Homo sapiens: one gene and its partners. The protein of the gene in region 3 interacts with the protein of the main gene of each other region in a pairwise test. Each region holds a gene or a part of one and is shown on either strand. Other genes may lie near its edges.

What was found.
Region 1: the proteins of ZZZ3 (region 3) and ZNF496 interact in a two-hybrid assay, tested with the Homo sapiens proteins (one large-scale study listed by BioGRID and IntAct).
Region 2: the proteins of ZZZ3 (region 3) and TRIM22 interact in a two-hybrid assay, tested with the Homo sapiens proteins (one large-scale study listed by BioGRID and IntAct).
Region 4: the proteins of ZZZ3 (region 3) and PCBD2 interact in a two-hybrid assay, tested with the Homo sapiens proteins (one large-scale study listed by BioGRID and IntAct).

The regions. Positions count from the first base shown.
Region 1 is NC_000001.11:247,301,516-247,310,384, forward strand, and holds part of ZNF496 (zinc finger protein 496), read right to left. Parts: coding exon 8,809-8,869; intron 8,292-8,808; coding exon 8,184-8,291; intron 7,074-8,183; coding exon 6,960-7,073; intron 6,513-6,959; coding exon of another isoform or gene 6,358-6,512; exon of another isoform or gene 5,187-6,357; intron 1-5,186. UniProt on the Homo sapiens protein: DNA-binding transcription factor that can both act as an activator and a repressor.
Region 2 is NC_000011.10:5,696,864-5,703,289, reverse strand, and holds part of TRIM22 (E3 ubiquitin-protein ligase TRIM22), read right to left. Parts: intron 6,043-6,426; coding exon 5,947-6,042; intron 4,976-5,946; coding exon 4,745-4,975; intron 1-4,744. UniProt on the Homo sapiens protein: Interferon-induced E3 ubiquitin ligase that plays important roles in innate and adaptive immunity.
Region 3 is NC_000001.11:77,631,412-77,640,280, reverse strand, and holds part of ZZZ3 (ZZ-type zinc finger-containing protein 3), read left to right. Parts: intron 1-678; 5' UTR 679-809; coding exon of another isoform or gene 810-832; intron 833-6,875; 5' UTR 6,876-6,926; coding exon 6,927-8,431; exon of another isoform or gene 8,432-8,446; intron 8,447-8,869.
Region 4 is NC_000005.10:134,956,992-134,965,367, reverse strand, and holds the end of PCBD2 (pterin-4-alpha-carbinolamine dehydratase 2), read right to left. Parts: intron 6,329-8,376; coding exon 6,248-6,328; intron 4,783-6,247; coding exon 4,687-4,782; 3' UTR 2,724-4,686; downstream 1-2,723.

The DNA of each region.
Region 1 (8,869 bases), about 170 Mb from region 3:
CAGCCATTTTCCCTTATCTCCACCCCCAACCCTTTTGTTCTCTACCCACGGAGACCACCCCATCCCCCCAAGCTCTAGGAGTCTGTATTTATCTGGGTAAAGCCTTGACCATTTACAGATCATGCACTTAACAAGGCATGGGGGAAAGCTCTATCAGGATAGTGAAAGGACTTGAGAGAGGAAGACTCTACAACCTACACATATCATGTGCTGGGCACTTGCATGCTCCAGGGACTGTGCTAGACTTGACATGCACATTCCTATTTGCTCCTGGACGCAACCCGATGACCTATTGGTTGCCATGTTTACACATAAACTAAGGTGATCTGTGCCAGGAAGGAGGGCTGAAATGCTACTCAGCCTTGCTAGGCTGCTCAACAGTCCCAGACTGCCCAGAGTCCTGGGTCCCCCACAGCTCCCCGGCTCCCAGTAGCACCGCATTTCTGAGGCCACAGGTGGTGATGGATAAAGCTGCTCTGGACTTCCTGCATCCTGAGTCTGTGATGTTGGGAAGGTGGAACCACGGGGCGGGGCTGGGTGGACAGTGCAGAGCCCGGCCTGAGGTCCCGGCTTATGGAGCAGAGCCCACCATACAGGTGGCCTGTTTCCTCACTGCTGTGAAATGTAGAACTCAAATCTAGAACTTGGGGGGAGTGAACCAGGCCCTCCCAGATAAGAGTAGGAACATGGTTAGTCTGGGCTTCATGACTGTGGGGAGGAGAGCCCTGGCTAGTCAGAGCAGCTCAGGACAGGAGAAGTTGGACAAACAGAAGCAGGGCAGGAAGACACAGAGGCTATGGAGAGCAGAGAGATAAAGGGCAATGGTGGAAGCGGAGGGGGCATTTGTCCCTCAGTCACAAGGGGGTCGGGGGAACATGAGTCTGGGAGTGGGTACTGAGTCTGCCAAGAACCCACGTAGTATAGGAGGGAAATCATCAGATGAAGACAGAGATTGTGTTTGTGTGTGTGCATGTGTTTTTAATTTTTTGTACAGATGGGGTCACATTATGTTGCCCAGGCTGGTCTCAAACTCCTGGGCTCAAGCGAGCCACCCATCTCAGGTGATCCACCTGCCTCAGCCTCCCAAAGTGCTGGGATTACAGGTGTGAGCCACTGCGCCCGCCGAGAGGCTATGTTTGACGCTTATCTCGACTCTTGGTTTTCGAGCTGCAGGAACCTCGTTCCAGCCAGACAGCTTCTCTGAGCTTGGGTCATCTCGTCTACAAGGTGAGAATGACAGTGGCAGCCCGTTGCTCTAAGCTGCTGGTGGGGCAGGTGAGGTCATGTGTATGATGTACTTTGTGGACCTCATGGGGTGGAGACAAGAGCAAGGTGTAACTTTTACCAGGCTGCCGATGACAAGGTACTTGATCAGCAGTTGACTTCTGTTAATGGACTTGGGTGGAAGAAGAAAACAAAGTGACAAGGTGGACCGCTAAGATCTCTTACTTGTTAACTGGGCGAGGAGATGGAATTATGAGAGCAGACAGTGCATGTTATGGGCGAAATTGTGTCCCCCTGAAAATTTACATGATGAAGCCCTAACCCATAGAGCCTCAGAATGTGATTACTTGGAGATAGGGTCTTTCAAGAAGTAATTAAGTCAAAATGAAGTCAGATGGTGGGGCCAATCCAAAATCACTGGTCTTCTAAGAGGAGGAGACTGGAGGCAGACTTCAACAGAGGGAAGGACCCTGTGAGGACACAGCAAGATGGGAGCCGTCTCCAAGACGAGAAAGGCCTTGGAAGACACCAGCTCTGCTGAAGCCTTGATTCTGGACTTGTTGCTTCTGGAATTGTAAGAAAGTAAGTTTCTGTTGTTTAAGTCACCCAGCCTGTGGTACCTTGTTATGGTAGCCACAGTAGACTAACATAGACTTTGGCACCAGGAAGTAGGGTGCAGCTAAAACAAAGACCAAAAACTGTCGAAGTGATTTTAGAACTAGGTCATGGGGAGAGGCCAGGAGAGTTCTGAAGTGCATGTTTAAAAAGCCTTGAGGAAGTGGCTGGTAGAAATACGGACGTTATAGGAAATTGGAGAAAAGGAGATCCTCCAATTATAAAGTGGCAAAGAATTTGGCCAAACCATATTCAACTGTTCTGTGGAAACAGAAATTGTAAGTAAGGAACTCGGATACTGAGCTGAGGAGGTATCGAAGCAAAGTGTCAAAGGCAAAGACTAGTTTTTTGCCGCTTATAGTGAAACGTGAGATGAGAGAGATAAACTGAAGAAGGAATTGTTGTAGCAAAAAGGAACCATGACTTCAAGATTTGGAAAATTCTGTCTATCCATACGGCAAAAAATAAGAAAGCGTGCACTGGAGAGACACCAAGAGTGTGGCTGGCTCATCATTTGTTAAAGAGATTCTGGGTATGATTCACGGATCCAATCAACCATCTCAACAGAAGCCAGGAACAGAGATGAGGTTATCCAGGAAGGTCTATGGAGGACACCCTCGTCTGACGGCCTGCAACCCTGTGGACTGCATGGAGGGCAGGGTTTCTGAGTATTATATACCAGCAGAAACACTGCCAGCTGGAACTGAAAGGAAAAGAGATGGGATGAAATAAAAGAAGGCTAGGACTTCTGGGATTCTACAAACTGGCCGATAGATCTATCTGGCTATGAATATGTACTATCCTTCAAGAAAAGGGAAGAATGACTCCAAAGGTGGCTCAGAGGTTACAGGACTGCCACTGTCATCATGGGACCAGAGAGTACAGGCTCAGGAGGTGAAGTCATTTCCTTCTGAGTTCCAAAGAGCAGGGCCAGTAGCCTGCTGGGCCTGGAGAACAGAGAACTGAGCCAGAGGTTATTGCTGAGCCTTAAAATCCCATGGAAATGACCTGCTAGATTTTTTTTTTTTTTTTTTGAGATGGGGTTTCGCTCTTGCTGCCCAGGCTGGAGTGCAATGGCATGATCTTGGCTCACTGCAACCTCTGCCTCCTGGGTTCAAGCAATTCTCCTGCCTCAGCCTCCTGAGTAGCTGGGATTACAGGTGTGTGCCACCACGTCTGGCTAATTTTTGTATTTTTAGTAGAGAGAGGGTTTCCCCATTTTTGCCAGTGCAGTCTCGAACTACTGACCTCAGGTGATCCGCCTGCCTCGGCCTCCCAAAGTGCTGGGATTATAGGCACGAGCCACACCACACCTAGCCCTGACCTGCTAGATTTAAGACTTGCTTGGGACCCATTACCCTTTCTTCTCTTGGATTTCTCTATTTTGGAATGAGAATGGTCTATGCTATGCTTTTCTCACAGTTGTATTTTGGAAGCAAAAAACATCTGGTTTCACAGTTCATAGCTGGAGAGGGTTTTGCCTCAGGATGAATCATACTTCAAGTCTAACCCATACCTGATTTGAGATGTTGATATTTAGATGAGATTTTGGACTTACAGTTGATGCTGAAACAGGTTGAGAATTTGGGGGCTGTTGGGATGAGGTGAATGGATTGTGCATGTGGGAAAGACATGAATTTTGAAGGTCCTGAGGGTGAGGTCTTACAGGGGATGAATTGTGTTGTCCCAAAATTTCATGTTGAAGTCCTAACCCTAAGGACCTCAGAATGTGACTGTATTTGAAGATAGGCTCTTTCAAGATGTAATTAAGTGAACATGACGACATATGGGTGGGTGGGCTCCCACATATGGTGGGAGGCCGAGGCAGGAAAATTGCTGGAACACGGGAGGCAGAGGTTGCAGTAAGCCAAGATCGCGCCACTGTTCTCTAACCTGGGTGACAGAGCTAGACTCCGTCTGAAAAAAAAGAAAAGAGCTATTGGTCTAACTGCCAGTATATGCATTAAACCATTTAATCCTTAGCAATAACTGTACAAGGCAGCTTTAACTATTATTTCTGTTTTCCAAATAAAAAATGTAAGGCAGAAAAGTGAAATTGCCCAAGGTTTCAGGGGAATTGAGCCAGTGGAGATGGGACCAGGGCTCGTGGCCACATAGCTAGCAGGCAGCCAGGCTGCTGCAAGTGCTTGTTGCAGGCGGAGTGGCAAAGGCATGCAGCGTGCAGGTAACTCCATGACTATCGCCTCAGGAAGGATGCTCTGGCCAGGAATGAATGACTTCCTGCGAGCTGAGGGGATTAAGGGGAACAGCAGGGGAGACTAGGAAGCTGGATGTGAAAAACCAAAATGATAAAGGCATTATTAAAAACTGTAAAATATTCTTGTAAAGTTAGAATGGGGAAGCTTTCTCAAGCAAGGCATAAAACCAAAAAGATGACGAATAAGTGTACCTACAGTTAAAAACTGTAAGAAAACATTTAAGCCAGGCATGATGGCACACGCCTGTAGTCTCCCCAGCTATTTGGGAAGCCAAAGCAGAAAGGCTGCTTGAGCCCAAGACTTCAAGACCAGTCTAGGCAACATAAAGAGACCCCATCTTTAAAAAACAAAACAAAACAAAACAAAACATTTATATGCTGCAAGACACATAAACAAAGTTGAGGGAAATGGAAGAAACTATGTATGAATACAGCAGAGGCAAGGGATTCAGACCCAAAACTACAACGACACGTGGGTTCAGGTAAGAATCAGAGACTTGGATTTGGTATTTAGAAGAACCTATGAAAGATGGCAGTTTCTATGAATCCACAGAAAAAGCAAACCGTGGTTTGGTAATGTAGAGTAAAAGCCATGGGTCTGAAGCCTGACAGCCTGAGTTCAAATCTTTTTTTTTTTTTTTAAGATGGAGTCTTGCTCCGTGTCCCAGGCTGGAGCGCAGTGGCGTGATCTTGGCTCACTGCAACCTCTACCTCCTGAGTTCAAGCAATTCTCTCTGCCTCAGCCTCCCAAGCAGCTGGGATTATAGGTGCCCACCACCACGCCTGGTTAATTTTTATATTTTTTAGTGGAGATGGGGTTTCGCCATATTGGCCAGGCTGGTCTTGAACTCCTGACCTCAGCGATCTGCCTGCCTCAGCCTCTCAATGTGCTGGGATTACAGGCGTGAGCCACTGCACCTGGCCGTTTTTTTTTTCTTTTTCTTTTTTTTTTTGGAGACAGACTCTCGCTCTGTTGTCCAGACTGGAGTGCAGTGTCATGATTTCTGCAGCCTTGACCTCCCAGGTTCAAGCGATTCTCCTGCCTGAGCCTCCCCAGTAGCTGAGACTACAGGTGTCTGCCACTGTGCCTGGCTAATTTTTGTATTTTTAGTAGAGACAGGTTTCGCCATGTTGGCCAGGCTGGTCTTGAACTCCTAACCTCAGGCGATCTGCCCGCCTCGGCCTCCCAAAGTGCTGAGATTACAGGCATGAACCACTGCGCCCAGCCTGAGTTCAAATCTTCACTCCACCACCTACAGCTTGTGAGCACTGGACTCTGGGCAAGTGACTTCAGCTCTCGGGTGCCCCAGCTGCAATACAGAGACATCATGCCACCTATCTCAGAAGGTGCCATGAAGATACAATGCACAGAATCATGTCATCATGTAAATCACTGAATCCTGGTGCAATGTTTAGGACATAAAGAAAACAAGTATGAGTGCAAAAATAAATAAATAAGGATAAATGAATACTAACTAGGCAATTCATAGAACACAATAAACAAGAAAAGATATTCCACCTCAGTGGCGGATGTAGTAGCATTATTTGATTGGCACAAACTGAACATCTGGGAGTGTCCTGCGTGGGCATGGATATAGAGAAGCAGACCTTATCACCAGCTATCCGGCATCAGCTGGCGGGAAAAGCCTTTTAGGAAGGCAAGCTGGCAGGAGCTACCAAAATAAGTACAGTGCCCACTCTTTGAAATATATCGTCTCTCCCCTTTCTCAGTAGCAACCCTTGGCTTCTGGCTGTTTCAGAGCAGTCTGTGTCAGAGTCCAGCAAGGGAAGAATGGAGTTGAAAACTCCTGTGTATAAATGAACATCCATCCATCTTCTAAAAGTATATTGATGGGGCTGAGAGACATGCTATGGGCAGAAAGAAGCTAGAGAAGATTCAAAGTGCACCACAAACATCAGGCCTGCGCTTGAACTCCAAGTGGACCCCAAATGAATGCATCACTCTTGGCACGCAGAGGTGGGCTTCTTAGAAAACCAGGGGTGGGCATCCATGCTTGTGGAGCAGGATCTCATCCTTTCAGATCTCCCACACTAGAAAAGCCCCTTTGTCCATGCATGAAAGGGGGCCAAGTACAAGATGCATGGAGCTGGGTCAAAATGGCATAAATCTTGCCTTCAAAAGCATCACAGGTAGAAGAGATAATATGTGTGAGTTGGTCTCCATAGCTGCAGAAAACTACAATGACACGTGGGTTCAGGTAAGAATCAGAGGCTTGGGTTTTGTATTGAGAAGAGAAAGATGGCAGTATTGTAGCCTCTGCTTCTGGAAGTGGTGACTTTTACCAAGACGACTCAGAGTCTACACTGTGGCTATTTCTCTGAAAGCAGGAATGGAACATACACTTTCCAAGAGTCCTGTGCAGCTTCAGTATGCCAGAAACCTGCTCTTTAATCCCAGTTCCAAGATTCTGTGCCAGGATGCTGGCCATCCATGCTGAGAGAAGAAAAACACTCACTGCATCACCAACAGCACTACAGCAGCACCCTGCTTTGACACACCCTCCCCGGCCCCTGGGAAAGGCAAGGAGGGTGAGCCTGGGATTGGGAGTGAGCTGGAGAATGACCCCAGCACAACGGAATCAGGGCAAGCAGCTAAGAACACCACAGCAGAGGTCGGCGGGGATCCTGAGGGGTTCAGTTCCTAACTGTCCCATGCCATCACCACCGCACATTTACATCACACACCCACATGCCCCCAACACACAGGTGCACCCATGAATGCACACACTCACACATGCAGCACACCACATATACCACATGTGTATGCACGCACACATGCATTCAACACAACCATCCCCTATGCCACACATGCATACATACATTCATGCGACACACCACAGACACACAGGGACAAACCCATACCTCCCTGACCCTTCTTTACCTGGGTAGGTGTTTTGAGGCACCACCGTCTGTGGGCAGGCCTGGAACTCTGGCACCTGCAGCTCCTCACGTTTCCTTCTTTCTTCTACCTGGAATGGCTGGAGACTTGGAGAGTCTTTCCAGAGGAGGAAATGGAAAAATTGATTTGTTTTGCACCTACAGCACTACCTGGGAGGGTGCTATCCGAATAGATGCCAGGCTACGATCTGGGGGCGGCCCTGGGCTCCGTCCTGGGGACTGGCAGGGGGTGGCCACTCAATAAGTGTCTGCTGAGTGAATGAACCTGAAGGCAAAATGGGCCAACTCCACAAACATGAGCTCTGACGCTAGACAGAATCGACGTAGATCCGGGTTCTACTCCACCCACTCTATGGCCAGAGACAAGCACTTCCCCCAGCCCCATATTTATTCCCACTTTCTGTGGTGGGTTTTCTATAGTCATCACCACAGGCTCCTGCACACTCCGCACATCCTGCACAAACAGCTTGTGCAGAGCCTACAGGGTAGAGATGGTACAGGAGCTACTGCACCACACCAAGTCTCTGAACGCTTGTTCCAGGTGGGGATGGTGTGTCAAAACCTTGTCTGCTTCATGCCAGCTCTAGGTCCCAAAGGGGAAGAAGGTGTGGAGCTGCTGATGATTCTGTACAAAGCTATTTCCTCCTGAAGGAGCAGATGCTTCGAAGCACCATGGCATGGAGATCATGGGTGCAAGTGCTGGCGACACAGCCTGAAGGAGGGCTGGAAACTGCTGCTGCTGAGCCCCAGCACCTCCCCACACCCCAGTGTCCTCACAGCACCCCTGTACCAGGCAGATGGGAAGACTAGACAGGTGAGGCACCTCAAAGGGCTGCGCTCGGTGCCCAGTTAGGAGACACTCCCTCTGCAACTAGGCTTGTCATGAGTATCTGACTTCACTCCTGGAGGGGCTGCTGCATTGTCAGCACAAACCAGATGTTACTTACAGGCAGAGGAGAAAGACATTCCTATTATTTCCCAGTCCTTGGCCAAGGGAGTACAATTCCAATGCCTGGCAAAATTAAGATCCTCCATTCTTTCTATGAAAAGTCAGGGACAAGGCAAGACATGCAAGACCCACATAGAGTCTGGGGAAATGAAGAAGGCAATTAGGGGCCGCAGAGAGAAGCCAGAGAGTGGGCTCACCTCCGGCTGCCAGCAACCCTTCCCCCTACTCTGTCCACTCAGTTCTGGAATCATTACTCACCCAAGTAGGAGACCTGGGGCACTTCTTTGCCCTGGAGATCCTGCAACTCTGGAACGCGTGGCTCATTCTCCTCTCCCTGGGAGAGATCTGGCTGGGCAGCTAGGTCGTCTGTTCAAAGAAAAAGGCAGGGTACATGTTTATTAGTAATCTGATCCTGCAGCAACCAGGGCTGGTCCAGAAGAGAGAAGGCGGAGGGATGCCCAGCGGGCATGGCACCATCAGGGGCGAGAAGTGAAAAGGCCAGAGCTGGCAGTGCAGGGGCAGTGGGGGCAGCACACGCAGGGAGAGCTATGGGCTTGGGGGTCTCTCTGAGGCTTTCGGGTGTAAAGCAGACATAAAGGGACAAAACGGTAAGAACGATGGAAGAGAAATGGACATACAGCACATGTTCTATTTGGTTCTGATAAGCCTGATGTGGCGAGACAGCAGGTGATGGTCAATCGGACACACTGCCTGTAGGGCCGCTGTGTGCAAATGACCTCCTGTCCAGGTTGGGGGTGAACAGAGAGATCTGATGCAGGCCCCGCTTCCCTGATCCTATGGGACGAAGTTGACTCTTACTCCAAGTGAGAACTCCCCTGCCCAGTTCCCTGGTCTTGAGGTGTGGGGGGAAGTTAAGTCTTACTTGGAGGCATTGAGACCCCGTAATCCTCCCCAATGATGAACTCTCCATAGAAGCCAGTCTG
Region 2 (6,426 bases), on a different chromosome or scaffold from region 3:
GTTCTCACTTATAAGTGGAAGCTAACTATTGAGCATACGTGGACATAAATATGGAAATAATAGACACTACAGACTACACTAGGGGAGGGAGGAGGGTGTGTGAGTTGAAAAACTACTGATTGGGTAATATGCTCATTACCTGGGTGATGGGATCTGTATCCCAAACCTCAGCATCACCCAATATTCCCATGTAACAAACCTGCACATATACTCCCTGTATCTAAAATAAAAGTTGCAGTTTTAAAATTAACTATATTTATTTACAGACAGCATGATTCAGTATGTAAATGATCTCAAAGAATATACACACACAAACACACAACTACTAAAACTAGTAAAAGTTCAGCATGTGGAATAAATATTAAAGTTTTGAAAGAATAACACCCATGACTCAAGAATTTTATATTCAGAAATTTTGTCCCGCAATAATGAAGGAAATACTTTGCCATAAACGTTAAAAGACATTATTCAGGGGGAAGAAGAGTATATGTCTGAAATTCAGATCTTCACAAAGAGAGAAAGAGCACTGAAAAAGAAGTAAAGGTAAATAAAATATTTTGTTTTTCTGATTCTCAACTAATATATAAGATAATGGCTTAAAGTAATAATATCAACAATGTAGTGGGCGATTACAGCTTATGGATAAGTGAAATGAATGACAGCAACGTTACTCAAGATTGAGGATACTCTGCTCTAAGGTACCTGCACTACATGTGAAGGGGTATAGTGTTATTTGTAATTAGACTTAGATTAGTTGTAAATGCATATTGCAAACTCCAGGGAAACCACTAAGCCTTTATATATATATGTATAGTGTTATTTATATTTTTAAAATATATTTTTATATATTTATAAAAAGTTTATATTTTTAAAATATTTTTATATTTCAAATATATTTGTATGTTTGTTTTATATTTATATATATACCTTTAGGCATATTAGTTATATTATTATTAGTTATATTAGTTATATTATTAGGCATATTAGTTATATTTATATATATACCTTTAGGCATATTAGTTATATATTATATATAACTATATATAATATAATATATATTAGTTATGTATACTAGTTATGTATATATAATATATAACTAATATATATTAGTTATGTATATGTAATATATAACTAATATATATTCGTTATGTATATGTAATATATAACTAATATATATTAGTTATGTATATTATATATAACTAATATAGCTATATTTGTGATGTATATTAGTAATATATAACTAATAAGCTAAGAGAGGAAAGAAAATTGAATAATATAAAATAATCAATTGAATAATACAAAATAGTTAAAAGAGGGCAGAAAAAGAGAGGAAGGGAAAAAAAAGCAAAGAGCAAGTACGGTCAATAGAAAACAGTGAAAAATGGTAGGCGTTTTAATTTTCTGGGGTTGCTCTAACAACGTAGCAGCACAAACTGTATGGTTTTTAAACAACCGAGATTTAGTCTCTCACAGTTCTTGAGGCTAGGTTCAAAATCAGGATATTGGTAATGTTGGTCCCTGCTGTAATCTGTTCCACGCTTCCCTATTAGCTTCTGGTGGTTGCTGGTACATTGATTTTGGGCTCTGAGCTTTCAGAACTATGAGACAATTTTTTTGTATGAGGTTTTAAGTTATAAAGTTTGTGACAATTTCTTACAGCAGCCACAGGAAATGATTACCGCTACAGTTGTACCTGAACAGCACACTATATAGCAACTGATTTAAATGGCATTCATAGAATATTCCATCTAAAGGCAAATATCTATTCTTCTCAAGCTCACATTGAAAATTAACCAAGCTATAACACATTCTATACCACAAAATACACGTTAACAAATGTAAACAATTGAACTCATACAAAATGTTTTCTTACGCAACAATAGAATTTAACTAGTAATCAGTAACAGACAGCTGTAATACTCCAAAATATTAAGCAACACTTTAAAAATAGGCTTAGTGGGTTTTATTGGTAAACTGATGAATTCTACCAAAAGTTGGAGAAGGAAATTATTAAAATTCTCCCCAAATTTGTTTCAGAAAATGAAAGGAGATGGACTATTTTGTAACACATTCTATGAGGTCAGCATTACCCTAATCCAGAGCCAAGTAAAGACATTATGAGAAAGGAAAACCAGAAACCAGTATCTCTCATGAACACAGATGCAAAAATTCTCAACAGTACGTTAGTAAAACAAATCCAACAAAATATATATAAAAATTGTGCACCACAAGTAAGTGGGATTTATTCAAGGTATGCAAGCTGGTTCAATCTTTGAAAATTATTAATGTAATCTCCCATATCAATAAAGAAGAAAAATCATATGATTATATCAACTGAGGCAGAAAAGCTATTCGACAAAATTCACACCATTCATGATAAAAAGTCTCAGCAAACTAGGAATAAAGAGGAAGTTTCTCGGCCGGGTGCATCTGAGGTCAGGAGTTCAAAACCAGCCTGCCCAACATGGCAAAACCCTGTCTCTATTAAAAATACAAAAATTAGCTGGATGTGGTGGTGGGCGGCCTGCAGTCCCAGCTGAGGCAGGAGAATCGCTTGAACCCGGGAGGCAGAGTTTGCAGTGAGCCGAAATCGTGCCACTGCACTCCAGTCTGGGTGACAGAACGAGACTGCGTCTCAAAAAAAAGAAAAAAAGAGGAAGTTTCTCAACTTCATTACAAATCTGAAAAAAAAAAAAAAAAAAAAAGACTCCTATAGCTAACATCATACTTATAAGTGAGAGACTGAGTACTTTCCCCCTAAGGTCAGAAAAAAGGAAAGGATATCCCCTCTCACCATCCCTGTTGAACATTGTACTAGAAGTCCTAGCTAGTGTAATAAAACAAGCAAAGACAAATAAAAACTATACAAACTGCTGGCCAGGCGCGGTGGCTCACGCCTTTAATCCTAGCACTTTGGGAGGCCAAGGCGGGCAGATTGCCTGAGCTCAAGAGTTCGAGACCAGCCTGGGCAACACAGTGAATCCCTGTCTTTACTAAAATACAAAAAAAATGTAGCCAGGTGTGGCGGTGTGCGCTAGTCCTGGGAGGCTGAGGCAGGAGAATTATTTGAACCTGAGAGGTGAAGGTTGCAGTGAGGTGAGATTGTGCCACCACATTCTAGCCTGGGTAACAGTAAGAGACTCCGTCTCCAAAAAAATACACCAAAAAAAAAAAACCATACAAACTGCAGAGTATGAAACAATTAACTTTATTCTCAGATGACATGATTCTCCATGTAGAAAATGCCAAAGAATTGACATTAAAAAAAAAACTCTTCTATGACTAATAAGTAATTATAGCAAGGTTGCAATATACAAGATTAAAATACTAAAGTCAGTTTCCTTTCTATGTGCCAGCAATGAAGAATTGAAATTTGAAATAAAAAAAAAATTACAATAGCACCAAAAGTAAAACAGAAAAAACTCTTTAAAAAGGTACAGAATCTACATGTGGAAATAATAAGCTTTTCAGCAGTGTTAGTTATTAGGAAAAAGCAAATCAAAACTGCATTGAGATACCATTATGTTCCCACTAGAAAGGCTGTAACTAAAAAAAAAAAAAAAAAGGAAATAATCAAGTATTAACAAGGATGTGAAGAACCTAGAAACTTTTTATATTGCTTTTTATAAGCTTTTGTATTGTTACTCATATAAAGTGAGTAACAACTTTGGAAAATAGTACGACAACTTAAAACTTATACATAAACAACATACAACACTCTTTTTTTTTTTTTTTTTTTTTTTTTTTTTTTTTTTTTTTGAGACGGAGTCTCGCTCTGTCGCCCAGGCCGGACTGCGGACTGCAGTGGCGCAATCTCGGTTCATTGCAAGCTCCGCTTCCCGGGTTCACGCCATTCTCCTGCCTCAGCCTCCCGAGTAGCTGGGACTACAGGCGCCCGCCACCGCGCCCGGCTAATTTTTTGTATTTTTAGTAGAGACGGGGTTTCACCTTGTTAGCCAGGATGGTCTCGATCTCCTGACCTCATGATCCACCCGCCTCGGCCTCCCAAAGTGCTGGGATTACAGGCGTGAGCCACCGCGCCCGGCCACAACATACAACACTCTTAAAATCTACTCAAGATAAATGAAAACATGTTTGTATGAGGACATGTAAGTGAATGTTTACTGTAGCATTATTCATAATAGTCCCTAACTGGAAAATATTCATATAGCCACCAACTGGTGAATACATAAACATAATATGATATATTCAGATAATGGAATAGTATTAGCAATAAGAGCAAAATGCTGATACATACTGCAATATAAATAAACCTCAAAATATTATGCTAAGTTAAAGATGCCAGATGCAAAAGACTACATGTTTTATAATTCAATTCATATTGAAAGGTCCAGAGAAGCCAATTCTATACAGACAGAAAACAGATAGGCTGCCAGGAGGTGGAGGTAGAAACAGATATTGACTGCAAACAGGCATGAGAAATGTTTTTGATGTGATGGGAAAGTTCTAAAACTGATATGCTCATGGTACAAAGAATCCTCTCCAAGCTCAAATTTTTACACTGCTCTCATAAGTGAATAATAATGGGAATTTCCCTTCCCATTCATACACTTAATGATCTCTGTGACCCCTGAAATGATGGGCATAAAAGGGGCATGCCGGGCCAAAGGAACCATTTCATGTCACCACACAGAAGAAAGCCTAGAGACTGGGAAGGGAAGGAAAATCGGCCTCTGTGTTTTTCCCCTAATCTCTTACGTAGGTGCTCCATCCCAAGTCTTACCTGCAGCATCTCTACTGACGATCCCCTCAACCTCCGCTGGAGATCTGAGATGAGCGTGCTGGCATCCTGCCTCTGCTGGACCAGCTGGTCTGTAGCTGCTGCCAGGTTATCCAGCACATTCACCTCACCTTCCTCCAGCTTTTGCAGCTCTCTCTGCTCCTCATTGTCCAAGATGACTCTCATTTCATTGAACCCTTTCAGAATCTTCTGTCTCTCGATCTGGATATAATTCTTGGGAATGAAAAGAGAAAGAGGCAGTCAGTCTGGCTGGTTGAAGGCCTGCTTTGTATGAGCCTGGGAGACAGGATAAGAACAGTTTTCCTCAGGGAGTTCTCAAAAGGAATAGGAGGCAAAAGCCAATACACAATTTCTGGTGAAGCCATGTTTTTCTACTTTTTAACCTGAGCTCCTCCCAAAGCAATACACTCAAGTCAGTTTTATTGAGGCCTAATCTGAGACAAAATGTGATGCCTGGGTGAGGCTTGGATTGTAGACACCTGTCCTGAACAACTTTGCCTTTCTGTATCTTAAATCCCTCTACCTGGCCTGGCACAGTGGCTCATGCCTGTAATCCCAGCACTTTGGGAGGCTGAGATGGGTGGATCACAAGGTCAGGAGATTGAGACCATCCTGGCTAACATGATGAAACCCCATCTCTACTAAAAATACAAAAAATTAGCTGGGCATGGTGGCACATGCCTGTAGTCCCAGCTACTCGGGAGGCTGAGGCAGGAGAATCGTTTGAACCAGGGAGGCAGAGGTTGCAGTGAGCCAAGATCGCGCCACTACACTCCAGCCTGTATGACAGAGAGAGACTCTGTCTCAAAAAACAAACAAACAAACAAAAAAATCCCCCTACTGAAACCCCCTAAACAGGGAATCCTGGGTCTTTCTCCAGGGTGTTTACTGGAAGGATTGGAGCCTCAAACCTGATGACACAAATGGAACACAGGATTCACAGGAAGCGTTTTCACAGATATTTCCCTCCATGCCTTCACTTCCAAATATAGTGTTGATTTATGATATGTCTACTCTCCAGCCCCTAAACTCCAACAGGGAAGGAGTTAAATTGAGACCTAATCAAATGACTTCTATGCTTGTTAATTCTAGCACAGCAAAGAGGAAGGGGTCTCCTTGTGATAGAGCCCAGGGTCCTGCCCAGATTCCTGTCTAATTATCCCTTAGGAGGTGTCTCCTCCTGCCTTCCAGGCGGTTCTCTCTTGTCTGATGTCATCTTCCAGCTTCTCAGCCTCTTGATCCTCCTTTATCAGCCTCTGCAGGGCTACCTGCAGCTTTTCCTGTAAGAAATAAATTATACCAGAGTAAAGTTATGAGCTTTCTCAGCACCTGAATAGAGGACAGCAAGGAAGAAATTGGATGGCTCTCAGAAGAAACTAGTTTACAGAAACAGTGAGGCTGGTGATTAGAACCTATGGCATGGGGGAAAATCTGAGGAGATGAATGTATTCTTTATTCCTGGATGATGGAAGTCACCATCCTCTTATCAAGAGTAGCCTGATTCTTTTCCTAGAGAAAAAGCAGACCCTGCAGTAAGGAAAGACGTCCTTTCATTGCCACTCTTCCCACATCTAACCAGACGTGTTCCCAAAAATACTGTTCTTCTTGGAGGGGCAATGAAAGCTTATCTTACAAAGCAATTCTCCATTCATTCAACTTTTCCT
Region 3 (8,869 bases):
TATAGTAAAAATTAACCAGACTGTTCTAAGAAATGGAATGTAATTAGATTAATTAAATTGTCTGGCTAATTGGGTACTAAAACCGGAAAATCCTTGTTGTTCTTGTTCTTGTTAAAAATACATATGCCAAAAATAATAGAAATGTCCTTTTGTAATTGAATTTTGTAGCACTTGAATAAGCATCAAGGTTTTCCTATAGGTATAGAAGATTTGGTTGATTATTTGTGTGATTCTTTTATGCATAACCTAAATGGTTATGTATACTTGATGTCGAGAATTTGGGAAGTCCTCTAGGACAAGAGTACGAGATGATATTATAAATTCTGTTATGAGAAATGCTATCAAGGGCAACCTTTATCACCGCAAAAAAAAAAAAAAATACTCCCTTAGAGCAATGTCTAGAAAAGAGCAAGTCACATTTTGACTCAGTTCAAACTAATATTGAGTTGTAAGGATTTGGTATATTTTAGTATCTTTTTGGTTTGCTTTTGTTGATTTCTAAAAATCCTATTTCAGTTTCTTAGTATTCTTGAGGCTACAGAGTTACCGAGAAGCATGAAAGATGTCACTATGAACAGTTTCTGTACCTGTATTTCTTCTTATTATAGAAGGAGTAAATCTATTAGCATAAGTTCATCATCTTCTTTAATCCTTTTTTTTCATTATTTTATTTTAAAGAAAAATTTAGGAGGTTCTAGTATTCTTCATGGCTGAAGCTGAGAGAGTCTGAAACCCTGATGCTTAAGCTCCATTCTAGATCATAGCTCCAACTCCTTCAGGATATAAGGAAAAGAGATTATATTTCCACAATGATAGATCTTTGGTTGTACAGGTAAGTTATTTAGTTTTGCAGTAGTGAAGACAGCTATAGTTTGACTTCTTCTTCTTTTTTTTTTTTGAGATGGGGAGACTTGTTATTTTTCCATACATCCTCTGGGTGGCAACTTGTAGTTTGGCTGGCTGTTTATAGGAGTATGGAGCTGCAGGGAATGGGTTAGGAATGAAATATTTCCCTCCCTTTTTTTTTCAATGGGGTATAAATGAAGTGACTGATTATGTTGGAATTTTTTACTCAGGAGGCATTGTGAAATTCCTTGACTTCCTTTTCCTGATCGTCTTTTAAAGTGTGTGTTCATTTACTTTTGTCTATCTGTCTGTCTGTCTGTCTGACTGTCCGCTTATCTGCCTGCCTACCTACCTACCTACCTACCTACCGACCATCTGTCATATATCAGTTTCTCTTAATGGGAAAGAAATAAGAAGTCTCTTTATGTAAAACAATGCATAATAGAGTTCCCAGACTTCAAAGAGGTGACTATTTAAGAACCTTAAGTTGAATTGCATGGGTGGGTTACCAGCCAGGTTTTACTCTTCTACTTTTAACATTATAGATATGGTGGTAATTGCACTGCTGAGGTATTGTCTTAAAATAATTATATGACAAACATGGCCTCAACGTTATTAAATAGTTTATGTTTAGACAACTAGAAAAAGAATCATATTGGTTACACTTTCCAGTTGCATTTGCTCTTTTTTCCTTTTACTTTGGTTTGTCTATGTGAATATATTCTGGTATCATGACCAGTTTACTAAAAATTTTTCACTTAATAAAACTAAATATTATGATAATAAATATCAGCTAAACCATTGGTGTGATGGAAGATTGCCAGCTGCTCAATTCCCAAAATAAACTGTACCACTTTGGTGATTATAGTAGGAACAAAAGCTTATAGGCAAGGTCTTTGAAATATCTTTTTGAAATTTCTTTCTCTTAAGTAAATAGCTGGAGAAGTGTGTCATTAGGTGGGCCTTTTTTGTTTAATAATTATTATCTGTTTTAGTTCTTATGCGTACAGTTCTACAGGTATGATCATAGGAGCTGGAAATTTATGACCTGAAATGTAGCTGATAATGCTTCAAAGAGTGTTTTTCAGAATCCTATAGTTATATTTGGGTAACAGTAGATTCAAATTTATGAGAGGGCAATTCAGCAGCAAATATGTGGGTAGGATATGTGAAATTATAGGTAGGATTGAGGGCTTAATATGAATGGACAAGTTGAAATTCGGTTGACTAGTCCTTCTCAGATATGGCCTCCAAGAGGATGAGAATTTATGAAGGTGGGGAAGAGAGGGAGGGAGTCTGGTTAATTCTAGTTACTGACCACACTCTTTTTTCTCTGAATTCTAGAAAGTGCAACCATTCATTATTTGGTAGATAACATATAGGAAAAACTCCAGTGTAGTTGTTAGTTAGATTGCGTTTTGCCCATATGAATATGTTAATTAATGGCTTCCCTTATTTCTAAAACTAGATTGATTGCATTTCTAATTTCAGATGGATGCTGGCTAAGGTTTTTACCATATACCTCTTATTTTGTTAGCCAACAGGGTTATTTCCTGAGATAATTTGTAAATAAGTTCATTTTTATTCCTTAACAATATTTGGCAGAAATATAATTTTGTACTCTAAGCTTCTTTATTGTATTCTTAAGAAACATTTTGCAATGCAGCTAAAATGAGGAAAACAACTGCTTTAGTCTATAATATTTTGCTAAGCTTGGCAAAACAATGTTGAGACTTGGTTGAGATAATACAGACTTTTTATTTTTTATTTTCTAACAGAAAGGGTCTCACTATTGTCCAGGCAGTTCTCAAACTCCTGGGCTCAAGTGATCCTCTTGCCTCAGCCTCCTGAGTATCTGTGACTGTAGGTGCCCCCACTTCCCTGCCCCTGCACCTGGCTAATCTAGACATTTTTGGTCCCTTTTTATTAACTGAATTTTGCACTCAGTTTATTAGATAATTATAGAAAGTGTGTACCTTTATATATGCCTATCCAAAATAGAAAAGATATGAAGAAAAAGGTTAGAACAGAAAAAAATGATCAGAGGGAAGATTAGCAAAATTTTGTTTAACTCTGATCTTAATAATTTTAACCAGTTTATTACCTCAAGTGCACATCACATGTTAATTTCAGGTAAGATTTTTTATAGTCTTCCATTTGGTGCTTCCTTGGTCTTATTTATAAATTTTTTTATTATTAGGATCCAGTAAGAAATTAAAGGGTATTTTATAAATAGTTCTAATTTAGTTTGAAACTTGATGACTATTATCTTATTAGAATTCTGTCTGGGTTCACTAGCCTAAGGCAGTGCTTCTCAAACCCTAATACATACATGAATCACCTAGGAGCCTAATTCGTTGGTAGGTCTGGGGCGGAGCCTCGTATTCTGCATTTCTAACAAGCTTCCAGGAGATGCCCGTGATTGAGCTGCAAGAGCCTGAGGTACCACAAGGATCCTTGTTATAAAACAAGTTCTCTTTCAATACAGCCCAATAGCACAGAATTTGACAATCCTAGCACTAGGGCTTTGTTCTAGTTATTGAGTGAAATAAAAGCATTTTTAGGGTACAGAAGAAATGGAAAGAACCTTAATCTTTTATATTAATCAGTGTTTTCATATTTTATTTAACTTTTGTATTAATCAGTGTTTTCATATTTTAATCAGTGGAATGGTGAAAAATTAAGATAGGCCTTACTATACGTGATTTTTTTTTTTTTTTTTTTTTTTTCAAGACAGGGCCTTGCTCCCATCACCCAGGCTGAAGGGCAGTCACATCACTACACCCTTGACTTCCCAGGCTCAAGTGATCCTCCCACTCAGCCTCCCTAGTACCTGGGACTACAGGCAGGCTTCACTACACCTGGATAAATTTTTTGTATTTTTAGTAGAGACAGGGTTTCGCCATGTTGCCCAGTTTGGTCTCGAATTCCTGGGCTCAAGTGATCCACCTACCTCGGTTTCCCAAAGTCCTGGGATTACAGGCCTGAGCCACCATGACCAGCTTATAGGTGATATTTTATAGTAAAGAATATATGTATAAAAAAAAGGTTTTTAGTACTACTAATAATAGGTTCATTTCATCCAAAATAGTCTCTCTTTGAGAAGTTTGTACTGCAAGGCAAATTTTGCTCCCATTCAGATTGGTGTGGAAAGAAAAGGTTAAGGAAGTCTTATTATTGGAATAATTTAAGAGGTTTTTATGCCCTTAATTGGGATTGCATTTTAAAAAGTAAAGACTAACAGATTCTTTTGTGTGTTTATAAAGTATTTCTATTGTCAGTATTATTTTTGAACCATAAATTATGAGTATAGTTGAATTTACATTAAAGATAATATGTATTAGATTTTGTAGGCATTTTAGTTATTAAATTTAACTTAGCCTTATGCTTTTTTTGTGCATTTACATACATATTTAATATTTAAAAATAAGTAATCTTAACCCTTTAGAGTGCCAGATTTGGATACATGAAACAAGTAAGTTGCTTTTCATGTATTTCAGTTTGTGTTCTTTTCTTTTTATTTTTTTTTGAGACAGAGTCTCGCTCTGTTGCCCAGGCTAGAGTGCAGTGGCGCGATCTCGGCTCACTGCAACCTTTGCCTCCTGGGTTCAAGCGATTCTCCTGCCTCAGCCTCCCGAGTAGCTGGGATTACAGGCATGTGCCACCATGCCCTACTAGTTTTTGTATTTTTAGTAGAGACGGGGTTTCACCATGTTGGCCAGGCTGGTCACGAACTCCTGACCTCAAGTAATCCGTCTGCCTTGGCCTCCCAAAGTACCGGGATTACAGGCATGAGCCACTGCCCCTGGCCAGTTTGTGTTCTTTTAAAACATCATTTGAAGTTTAACTTAAATGTTTTACAATTAAAAGTGGAAAATTATGGGACACTCAGTGTTTGTTACCCATGAAAGAAACAGATTGTAATCTTCATGATAATATATTAGCAAACGATAATTAAATGTCAGCTGTTCTTTTAATGAATCCCCCAAACAATGAAAGTTTACTACTGTAAGAAATGTGTTTCTAAGTTCTGATTTGTGTCTTGTACTTATTGTTCACTTGGTTGCTATGAAATTCTGTAGAACATATAACCATGCTTTAATTCCAGGGCTAGTTTTGTGATTCTTATAAGATTTAAAAAAATTGTTAATTAAAAATTTAAAAGTATGCCATACTTTGAGACAACACTAAACTCAGGCAACTTAAATATTTTACAGGGTACTTTCTCACTTAATTCACTTGTCAGCAGGCAGGAACAGGGAGATTATTTCCTGTAGTGTTTCTTTTTTATATGTGGTAGCATGTTGCTGTGTCTTCTATAATTCTTCCAAACTTTCCACTGTTAGATAGTTCTAGTTGAAGCAAGGAGAAATTGTGTTTGATTTTTAGGGGTAGGAGTCAGAATGGCATTTGGAGGTTTACATGAGAAGGGAGACTGTTGATGACCAAAGGCAGGAGGAAGGGACTGTGAAACTTTGCACTATTGCCACCACTGGCCTCTTTCTCTAACTAATCATCCTGCATCTCATTCAAAGTTAGGAAATAAAATGACAGGGTACCTTGTGAAAACTAAACAGAAGAGGAGTCGGGGAATAGAGACTTCAAATATTAACAGCTCCTTTATTCTGCTTGATGGGAGAGCCTCTGGAAAATATCACCAAATCACTAGTTTACCCAAATGGATCAATCAAGGCATTTTTCTATATCCCTTACATTTCTGTCATATAAACCTCAAGCATCCACACCAGAATACCTGCTCATCTCCCAAACCACACATTAAAACTGGCACTGGCATATGCTATACACAGGAGTTCAAAGAAGGAAAGGGTGGGATTACAGGAGTAGTCTTGATTTCTTAAATGTAAGTATTTGCTTCAGAGGCTTCTTCCCCATTTTCTTTTCTGGTCTTTGGAACACTCCCTTTCACTTGCTAATTTATGGCTTTATTTCTAGAGACTAGGAAGGCTTGGGTTTGCTTTGTTTTGTTCTTAGCCAATGCAAGCTAGCATTGTGATTTTTGTCTATTTAGTTATGAAAAATTATACTGCAATAAAAAATTTTTGGATGCCAGATTATTATTAAGGGATTTGATCTGAAACTCATTTTAGCAAAAGTAAATTAAAAAGAGGAGAGCCTGCCTTTCTGTATACCGGGAACATTTTGAAAGAACACGAGAAATGATTGGAATAGTTTTTTGAAAGATAGCTGCTATATAAGTTCAAGATTATTATTTTATTTATTTTATTTATTTATTTATTTATTTTTTTGAGACAGTCTCACTCTGTCGCCCAAGCTGGAGTGCAGTGGCATGATCTCGGCTCACTGCAAACTCTGCCTCCCGGGTTCAAGTAATTTTCCTGCCTCAGCCTCCTGAGTATCTGGGATTACAGGCGTGTGCCACCACACCTGGCTAATTTTTGTATTTTTAGTAGAGACAGCGTTTCACCATGTTGGTCAGGCTGGTCTTGAACTCCTGACCTCATGATCCTCCCGCCTCAGCCTCCCAAAGTGCTAAGATTACAGGTGTGAGCCACTGCGCCCGGCCGAAGATTATTATTTTAATGACCAAAATGAAATCACATCTTTAGGATAGATCTCTTCTGGGTGTTTTATGCCTGAGAGGCAGATACACAGTGAGGCAGTTATGGTCTCTAGAGCCCTGCCTTGCTACTTACTAGAGTTGTGACCTTGGATAGAATATTCAGAGTGTGCTTTAATCTCATTCGTGAAGTAGGGATGATAGTAGCACCTATCTGAGTTGTTGTGAGACTTAAGTGAGTTAATGTATGTAAGGCATATAGAAAGACTCATGGAACATATTAAGTACTGTATGCTTGTTAGCTATAATTTATATCATTATTGGAAACGTTAAAGAATTTTTATCACATAATTTAATATTGGCAGTTATATAGATAGTTATAGACTGTAATGTCCAAGTATACTTGGATTAAAAAGTTATAGCTTTATACTTTCGTTCTGGGTATATTAACTATTACCTTTTTCTCATTATTTTGTTTACATTTTTGAAGGTTTCCCAATGAGTGGATCATGATGACCGTATTGTAGGGACTTGCCATAGTATGGCTGCTTCCCGATCTACTCGTGTTACAAGATCAACAGTGGGGTTAAACGGCTTGGATGAATCTTTTTGTGGTAGAACTTTAAGGAATCGTAGCATTGCGCATCCTGAAGAAATCTCTTCTAATTCTCAAGTACGATCAAGATCACCAAAGAAGAGACCAGAGCCTGTGCCAATTCAGAAAGGAAATAATAATGGGAGAACCACTGATTTAAAACAGCAGAGTACCCGAGAATCATGGGTAAGCCCTAGGAAAAGAGGACTTTCTTCTTCAGAAAAGGATAACATAGAAAGGCAGGCTATAGAAAATTGTGAGAGAAGGCAAACAGAACCTGTTTCACCAGTTTTAAAAAGAATTAAGCGTTGTCTTAGATCTGAAGCACCAAACAGTTCAGAAGAAGATTCTCCTATAAAATCAGACAAGGAGTCAGTAGAACAGAGGAGTACAGTAGTGGACAATGATGCAGATTTTCAAGGGACTAAACGAGCTTGTCGATGTCTTATACTGGATGATTGTGAGAAAAGGGAAATTAAAAAGGTGAATGTCAGTGAGGAAGGGCCACTTAATTCTGCAGTAGTTGAAGAAATCACAGGCTATTTGGCTGTCAATGGTGTTGATGACAGTGATTCAGCTGTTATAAACTGTGATGACTGTCAGCCTGATGGGAACACTAAACAAAATAGCATTGGTTCCTATGTGTTACAGGAAAAATCAGTAGCTGAAAATGGGGATACGGATACCCAAACTTCAATGTTCCTTGATAGTAGGAAGGAGGACAGTTATATAGACCATAAGGTGCCTTGCACAGATTCACAAGTGCAGGTCAAGTTGGAGGACCACAAAATAGTAACTGCCTGCTTGCCTGTGGAACATGTTAATCAGCTGACTACTGAGCCAGCTACAGGGCCCTTTTCTGAAACTCAGTCATCTTTAAGGGATTCTGAGGAGGAAGTAGATGTGGTGGGAGATAGCAGTGCCTCAAAAGAGCAGTGTAAAGAAAACACCAATAACGAACTGGACACAAGTCTTGAGAGTATGCCAGCCTCCGGAGAACCTGAACCATCTCCTGTTCTAGACTGTGTTTCAGCTCAAATGATGTCTTTATCAGAACCTCAAGAACATCGTTATACTCTGAGAACCTCACCACGAAGGGCAGCCCCTACCAGAGGTAGTCCCACTAAAAACAGTTCTCCTTACAGAGAAAATGGACAATTTGAGGAGAATAATCTTAGTCCTAATGAAACAAATGCAACTGTTAGTGATAATGTAAGTCAATCTCCTACAAATCCTGGTGAAATTTCTCAAAATGAAAAAGGGATATGTTGTGACTCTCAAAATAATGGAAGTGAAGGAGTAAGTAAACCACCCTCAGAGGCAAGACTCAATATTGGACATTTGCCATCTGCCAAAGAGAGTGCCAGTCAGCACATTACAGAAGAGGAAGATGATGATCCTGATGTTTATTACTTTGAATCAGATCATGTGGCACTGAAACACAACAAAGAGTATGTGTAAATATGGTAACCATGAATTCTGCTTTGTTTATTATTCCCCAAGTTTTTCAGTATCTATTCGTAGTGTTTTTATTACAGCCAAAATTAATGTTTTCACTAAAATTTTAGGTTTAATATGATTTTCTCAACTCTTAGAAAAACTCCAAAAAAAGACTTAAACTCAACTTTACACGTGTGTTCTATGACAACATGGTCTTTCCAGTTCTGATATTTCATGTCTCAATTAGAAAAGACATGGTTGGTAGTGTTTTTGTTTTTTTAATATGTTTTATATCATTTTTAGTTAATTTATACAATGGAAACACATTGAGTTACCACAGTATGCTTTGATTTATAGTTCTAGATAGCATAGGACAATTAATGAGTGCTTAGACATCATCCAGATATGTGAAGTCTGGCAGGCTTGACATCTACTTTTATCTTACTTAC
Region 4 (8,376 bases), on a different chromosome or scaffold from region 3:
GAAGTCCTCTGGACAGTCATTAATTTACTAATCCTGAGTAACTGGCATTGAAACACAAAGCTCACATATGATGGCCAAACCCTCCCGATGTTTTTCTGATAACTTTACAAAACTGAAAGCTACAGAGTCCACCTAGAATGTTTCTGAATGCTGAATCAGAAAGTGTACAGACCGCTCCCTACTAACCCTAGTGGTCCAATAGTTCAATATATTAACCGAGGCAGGCTTGTGTCCAAATACAATGTACATGCTGCTGCTTTTTGTCTATAGCAAAAACATAAACAGCCATGCTTAAGCTATTTATCCAGAGGTTTCCTAAATCCTATCAATGTCAGAAAGTAATCACTATTTTCAGAACTTTCATTAACTTCATTGTAGAAAAGGACATCGTCAACCATGTGTCGGCCCGGTTTGCTATCTGTGGAGGTCATGCAAGAGGTCAAAGGTCATGTCTGTTTAACTCCTCTCTACTCCAGTGATCTTTTAGAAAGAAAACAGAAGAAAGCCAAAGCTTACCACATCAGAGAAACCACTGTCATCATGCAAAGATTTGGAACAGACAGGAACCTGGGGGCCTCCAATTTTGACAATATCTCTTTCAAATTGAAACGTGAGTTACTTTAAGCAAGTTTGGTGTTTCATTCTGTTGGAATTTACCACCATGAGCATTTCCATAGACTTCGGATACGGGATCTTTGATTCTCTATAGTAAAGTCTGTGAGTTCCAGCAGATGCAGCGACCCATAACATAGACCTATGTCAAACCCTAATGTAGGTGATAACTAGCAACTTCATTCGCAGGTCTTCACCACTGTCATTATGAGCCATATCCTGCTTTCTCCACTGTGCTACACGTGACATATGTTAACACAGCCATCAAGTTTAGCCTCTCAGACTTCTGCTGAAAACAGAGGAAAAGGGTTCCGTTTAGGGTATAGTAAAACAAGTTAAATGACACCACAGGAAGAAACAAACAAATCCAGAAAGCAGAATATTCTACAGCACAACTGACCCAGTTTTTACAATAAATAAATAACATGGGGAACTGAGGAAGGGAGGGGAGCTTGCTCCAGACTGACAGACTAAAGAGACACAACAACCAGATGCGATTGGTGGGCTTCATATAGATCCTCGATTAGAACCAGATTACTGTCCAAGGACATTCATGACCTTCAGGACAATTTGATTTTGCCTAGGTATTAAGTGTACCAAGGAATCACTTTGTTAGGTATAAAAATGGTACTGTGGGCCGGGCGCTGTGGCTTATGCCTATAATCCCAGCACTTTGGGAGGCCTAAGCGGGCGATCACGAGGTCAGGAGCTCGAGACCAGCCTGGCCAACATGGTGAAACCCCATCTCTACTGAAGATACAAAAAAAAATTAGCTGGGCATGGTGGCGCACACCTGTAATCCCAGCTACCCGGGGGGCTGAGGCAGGAGAATCGCCTGAACCTGGGAGGCAGAGGTTGCAGTGAGCCAAGATCACGCCATTGCACTCCAGCCTGGGCGACAGTGTGAGACTCTATCTCAAAAAAAAAAAACAGAGGTACTGTGGTTTATACAAGAAAATGGCCATATTTTCCATAGAAACTTACTGAAGGATATAGGGGTGAAATGATAAGCTATCTGGGATTTGCTTTTAAATACTTTAGCAAAGAAGGAAACAGGGAAAATGAAGCAACTGGGACAAAATCTTGGTAATTTTTATATCTGGGTGATATGTATATAAGGCTTCAATGTACTATTCATGTACTTTTGAATATGTTTAAATTTTTTCATGCTTAAAAAATTCATGTAAATCCAGGTGATGATTCTCAAAAGAAAATTTTAAAGAATTAATGTTGAAAATTGAAGCACTTAACTAAAAATATTTGGTAATAAAATGTATAAAAGTCCCAAATCTACACTATAGGAAACCAGCTTATAAAAACACAGTTTTGTCTTTTCCTTGGGAAGAATTCTAAGAAACAGAAGTTCTAGTGCTAAGAGTCTGGATCCCCTGGCAGCCAGAGAGCCTGAGTGGCTCTTTTCCCTCTTCTCTCCCTGCACACCACATGTCCACAGGGCAACTGACCACACCTGCCTCTCCCTGGCCAGCAAAACCAGCCAGGAACTGGCTTCAGAGAGCTCAGCCTCTGTGCCATGTTCCCATATGTTTCTCAGGTTTGGGGCAAGGGTGACATGGAGAGGGAAAGGTTTGCTTGTTGTAACAAACAGTGATTTCTCTGGCCCCTAAAGAGAGGTGGGTTTACAAAGATGATCCATGTTAAATTCCACTACCATGATGCTTCAAGGGACTAACAAATGCTTCATGGATGGATATACCTGCATCATAATCTCGTTAGTAGTACATTCCTGAATTCCTTCAAAAAACACTCTTATTACAATTTTTAAATAATAGATTACTTGATATTCCTTTTTACATCTGTCAGTGACACATGGAGTAAGTAGAGCTCACTACTGATTAACACCCTTCTAGCTTCTAGCTTCAGTGGCCGTAGACCCTCAGTTCAGGAGTCAAAACATGCAAATGATGGGGGGAAAATGACCCTTAGTTCCTCCTTAACTCAGTAAGTCAAATAATGACTTGGTGAGTTGGCTGCTGTAACAGTAAATCTTATATTGCCACACATTCCTGGAAGCCACAGACAAGACACTTGTCCTCTCCTTCAACTCTCTGTTGAAAGAGAAAAGTAAAGAAAACACACCAAGATAGCTCATCCAATTTTTGTGACTTGTTTAATCTAATTAATTATATAAGTAGTAACGGCAGCTAAAATCCAAATCAACTTTAGCTTCATAAGAATTGTTATAGGCCAGGCGCAGTGGCTCACGCCTGTAATCCCAGCACTTTGGGGGGTCAAGGCAGGAAGATCATTTGAGCCCAGGCATTCAAGACCAGCCTGGGCAACATAGTGAGACTCCATCTTGTATAATTATTAAAAATAAATAAATAAAAATTTTAAAATAATTGTTATGACACAGTGGCTCACACCTGTAATCCCAACATTTTGAGAGGCCAAGGCAGGAGGATTACTCGAGCCCAGAAGTTCTAGACCAGCCATGGCAACATAGTAAGACCCTGTCTCCACAAAAAAGTTTTAAAAATAAGCCAGGTGTGGTGATGCATGCCTGTAACCGCTGCTACTCAGGAGGCTGAGGTGAGAGGATCACTTGAGCCTGAGAAGTCAAGACTACAGTGAGCCATGGTCGCACCACTACACTACTGCCTGGGCAACAGAATGAGACCCCGTGTCAAACACACACACACACACACACACACACACACACACAAACTGTTATACTGGCTGGGGGCAATGGCTCACACCTGTAATCCTTGGACTTTGGGAGGCAGAGGTGGGAGGCTTGCTTGAGCCCAAGAGTTCAAGGCCAGCCTGGGCAAGATGGGAGACCCCATCTCTACAAAAAATTTAAAAATTAGTCAGGCGTGGTGGCACTTGCCTATAGTCCCAGCTACTCTGGAGGCTGAGGAGGGAGAACTGCTTGAGCCCAGGAGGTTAAGGCTGCAATAAACCGTGATCCTGCCACTGCACTCCAGCCTGGGCAGCAGAGCGAGACCCCGTCTCAAACAAAACAAAACAAAAGAAGAATTGTTATTTAAAGTTAAAACTCACTATCTGTCGAGTTCCTAATTCTTTTTCCACCTTACAACTATTCTCCAAAACAATGCATTTGTAGTCACCAGAATTGCTTGAATTTCTGGGTTATAAAATGTGTGAATACTCCCCATCCCAATTTCTTGAATTTAAGAATGCCACTTCTGGCCAAGCGCGGTGGCTCATGCCTGTGATCCCAACACTTTCGGAGGTGGAGGCAGGTGGATCACGAGGTCAGTAGATCGAGACCATCCTGGCCAACATAATGAAACCCCATCTCTACTAAAAATACAAAAATTAGCTAGGCGCAGTGGCACGTGCCTATAGTCCCAGCTACTCGGGAGGCTGTGGCAGGAGAATCATTTGAACCTGGGAGGCAGAGGTTGCAGTGAGCCGAGATCCCGCCACTGCACTCCAGCCTGGTGACAGAGCAAGACTCCGTCTCAAAAAAAAAAAAAAGCCACTTCTCTTTCTGAATATTATTAATATAAGTAACTGGGTTGGTTTATCTTAGGTATATGATTAGATAGCATGAAAAATACCTCAGGTTCCAGTTTAAATCATTGCGTATTTAAGCACTGATTTTACCAAATGTAATATATAAAGGCAAACAATTTACACAACTTAAATTGTTATTTTTCTTTTTTCTTTGCTTCTAGATATGATGCCTTAAGAACAATTCAACAGCCAGGCATGGTGGCTCATGCCTGTAATCCCAGCACTTTGGGAGGCTGAGGCAGGCGGATCACGAGGTCAGGAGTTCGAGACCAGCCTGACCAACGTGGTAAAACCCTGTCTATACTAAAAATACAAAAATTAGCCAGGCGTGGTGACACGTGCTTGTAATCCCAGCTACTCAGGAGGCTGAGGCAGGAGAATCACCTGAACCTGGGAGGCGGAGGTTACAGTGAGCCGAGATCATACCACTGCACTCTGGCCTGGGCGACAGAGCAACACTCTGTCTTAAAAAAAAGAGAAAAAGAACAACTCTATTTGTTCACATAAATTTCCTTCAACATACATTGCAGCTAAGATGTGTACAAGATTTTACATGTATTTTGGAAGAAATCACACAGAAGCAGCTGCTTTTTCAATAAACTTGGCCAGCTTCACATCTTTTTTGGTCAGTTCACCACAGTCATGTGAGGTGAGAGTTATCTGGACCTAAGAAAAAGAAAAGCAGTTTTTAAAACTCTGAGCAGCAAATCATGGTTATTTTCCTTTGGCAGTTCAGAAATCAGTCTATTATTCAACATTCATATTTGAGAATTAGGGGGATTAAATGATTTAGAAAATACTACATTATGAATAAGCAAAACATTTCCAAAACCCAGCGAACTCCAGGGGCATAGTCTACATTAGGCCTGGCTCAACAGCCACCTTGAAATAAAAAGTTCTCTTCCATGAAGAGGCAATGCAGCTGCCAGAATCTCAAATCTTGTTTCTTTAAATAAAAAGAGAGACTGAGGTTCCAATTGAACTCTCGTTACTTTAATTACATCAACTATTTTCAGGCCACTGAGAAAAACCAAGCTATCAAATGTAATATCTTAGCAGCAACGTTTAAAAAGCACATTTTGGCTGGGCATGGTGGCTCACACCTGTAATCTCAGCACTTTGGGAGGCCGGATCACCTGAGTTCAGGAGTTTGAGACCACCCTGGCCAACATGGTGAAACCCCGTATCTACTAAAAATATAAAAGTTACCCTGCACGCCTGTGATCCCAGCTACTCGGGAGGCTGAGGCAGCAGAATCGCTTGAACCCGGGAGGTGGAGGCTGCAGTGAGCTGAGATCGCAGCACTGCACTCCAGCCTGGGCAACAGAGCCAGACTCCAACTCAAAAAAAAAAAAAAAAAAAAAAAAAGCACATTTCTAAATTAGGGAAATGGGAGTAAAGGATGGAATGCTGTTTCTTGATGAACTGATTATAAAGTAAAAGCAAAATTACGAGCAAAGAGAAGCAAATAGCAAAGAAAAGTTTAGCCTGGTACCAAGGTGCTCTGAGTTATTCTATTAAGTCACGTGAGTATTGTGAAATTCTCTTTTTTCAAAGATTTTCACAGAGAAGACTTCATAGAAATCTAGATGATAAGACATTTCAAATGGCATGACCATAAAGGCAAGGACACTTTGGGAGGAACAAGGTTCTTCTCACTGTGTTCCCTCAAAACTTTTTAGTCTGTCCTTTGTCTTAAATAAGGTCATTTCCTACGCAGGATACAAAATTTAATAGTTTTCAAAGCACAGTTCTTGAGTAAAAATATTTCAACGAGATAAATGAGGCCATATCTATCTGATTTGCTACCATTTCTTTCAATAATTTACCTTAAGTTTTGAAACGTATCTGCATGGCTGATACTCCGGTTTAATTCAGGAGCCTCATTTGGCCCAACTTTCTCATATTAGCTTCAGTAGAAAGACAAGCATGAAAATAAAGAGCTTATTCACTGTTCTTAGGAGCAGACCTGAAAATGTGTTACTAATTTGCAATAATACACAGGGATTCTGAGAGAAAGGATAAGACTTTCTTAAGTACAATGACATTTAGCTGCACAAGATGACAAGGAAGAAAGAAGTTTCTTAAACTCCATAATTAAGGTGATTCCCAAATAAGGCAGTTTAGTTACCTTGTTGTATACATTGAACCATTCTGGGTGATGATTCATCTTCTCTGCTTGTAGGGCAACTCGGGACATAAAGCCAAATGCCTGCATAAGATGAAGTCAAGAGTAATTACTGACATTGTCCTCTACCCTAAGCCTGAGAGACACAACAGAGCAATCCAACCACATAAAGGCAGGCAAGGATCCTTAGGGAAGCCTGTGGAAATCAACTATGAAAGGACTGCTCTCTGCAGGCCTCTGGGGTCACAGTGCAGCAGGACTGTGACCTACTGCTGGATGGTGAAAAACTATCAGGCTCGAGTAAACAAACCAGGAAATTGGTCTCACCTAGTGACCCGTCTGGACTATTTAATTGTCCTCAGGACAAGACTCTACAAAATAGCACGGGAATAATTTCCCTTCAACCCAGTGCTCTGGGTCTCACTACCTGGCTCCAAATATTAGGAGCCACTTTTCTTGCAGCTCTGTTCCTTTTGTTTTTAGTGATTGGGTTGCTAACTAAGGCAACCCACAAGACTATGGAAAAAGGTCTCCTGAGGGTGTCTTAAGCAAAAGCACCAGCAGAAATGAACAACTTCTTCATCTCACCTCCCAGGCAGGACAGGAACAAATCAAAGACTATTGGCACCTAGAGTGAAACAGAAGCCCAGCTTGCCTGCTTGGGTTCTTCCTGCTACTGCCCTGCACTGCCATTTCAAGGTGACAGTGCACCCACCTCAGGGCAGAAGGCAAGCCAGGAAATGAGCAGAGGGCTGCAAACCAGTCACACGACTAAGTGTGGACTGACGGGGCTCTGTCTTTATACCACACGGGGAGTGGAAACAATTTTGTTAAGCAGAAGGTAAACTTGTCTTCAGAAGAAGGAAAAAACTCATTTTTTTGTTTGTTTTCAATTTTTTATGAAGGTAACTGCAAACAATAGGAGAGTCTGTCTCTATTGTTCCAGAATGCACAAATACTTGGTAAGACTCTTAGGGTAATGGCACATGAATTACAAAGTTAGAGTGGCATTCACAGGGCAATACCCATTACACCCACGTAAACAAATATTTAACTTCATTACCCCTATCCAGAAAAACCAATATGATGTTAGTCAAGCCATGTTTTTGGGATCACCAAATGACCTAAGTGTGTATTTCCTAGTTAACAGTGAGAAATACAGAAGATGCCATTTTAAACAATTCTATATCATTCACTATGGTACCTCTCTCGGAGCCAATTTTATTTGGGATAAAAGTTTCCATGTTGACATTTGAGGCCTGAAGGTTTTCCCTATAGGAAAAGGGAGAAAGTTCAAGCAAAATCCATTTGACCATGTATGGAATTATCTGTGGAAAAACAATATTCACTTTCCCAGCCCTTCTCATCTCATAATCTGATTGTCTAGATTATGTGAAGGGAAGGGACAAAAGCCTGTTTTTTATTTTTATAGAGACAGGGTCTCACTATGTTGCCCAGGCTGGTGGAATGCAGGGGCTGTTCACAGGCACAATCATAGATCACTGTAGCCTCAACCTCCTGAGCTCAAGGGATCACTCAAGGGATCCTCCTGCCTCAGCCTCCCAAGGAGCTGGGACTACAGGTGCATGCCACCATGCCCAGCCATGAAAGTCTGTTCTAATTATTCAAACATAGAGTTAACCCACATTAAACTACGTATAAGGAGAATTTCTACTCTGCCTATAATGCCTTATTCTTGTTTAGCATTAGAAGATGTACAATGCTAATCAACATCACTGATAGACAGCAATGCAATTGTTAAGGGCATGGCCTTTTGAGCCAGGGAGTCCTGGATTCAAATCCTGATTCTATCACTTAATTATCATGCAATTTAACTATCAGTCTCAGTTTTCTTTTTTCTTTTTGAGACAGAGTCTCACTCTGCTGCCCAGGCTGGAGTGCAGTGGGATTATCTTGGCTCACGGCAGCCTTTGCATCCCGGATTGAAGCGATTCTCCTCAGCATCCTGAGCAGCTGGGATTACAGGCACCTGCCACCACGCCTGGCTAATTTTTGTAGTTTTAGCAGAGACAGGGTTTCACTATCTTGGCCAGGCTGGTCTTGAACTCCTGACCTCATGATCCACCTGTCTCAGCCTCCCAAAGTGCTGGGAATATAGGCGTGAGCCACCA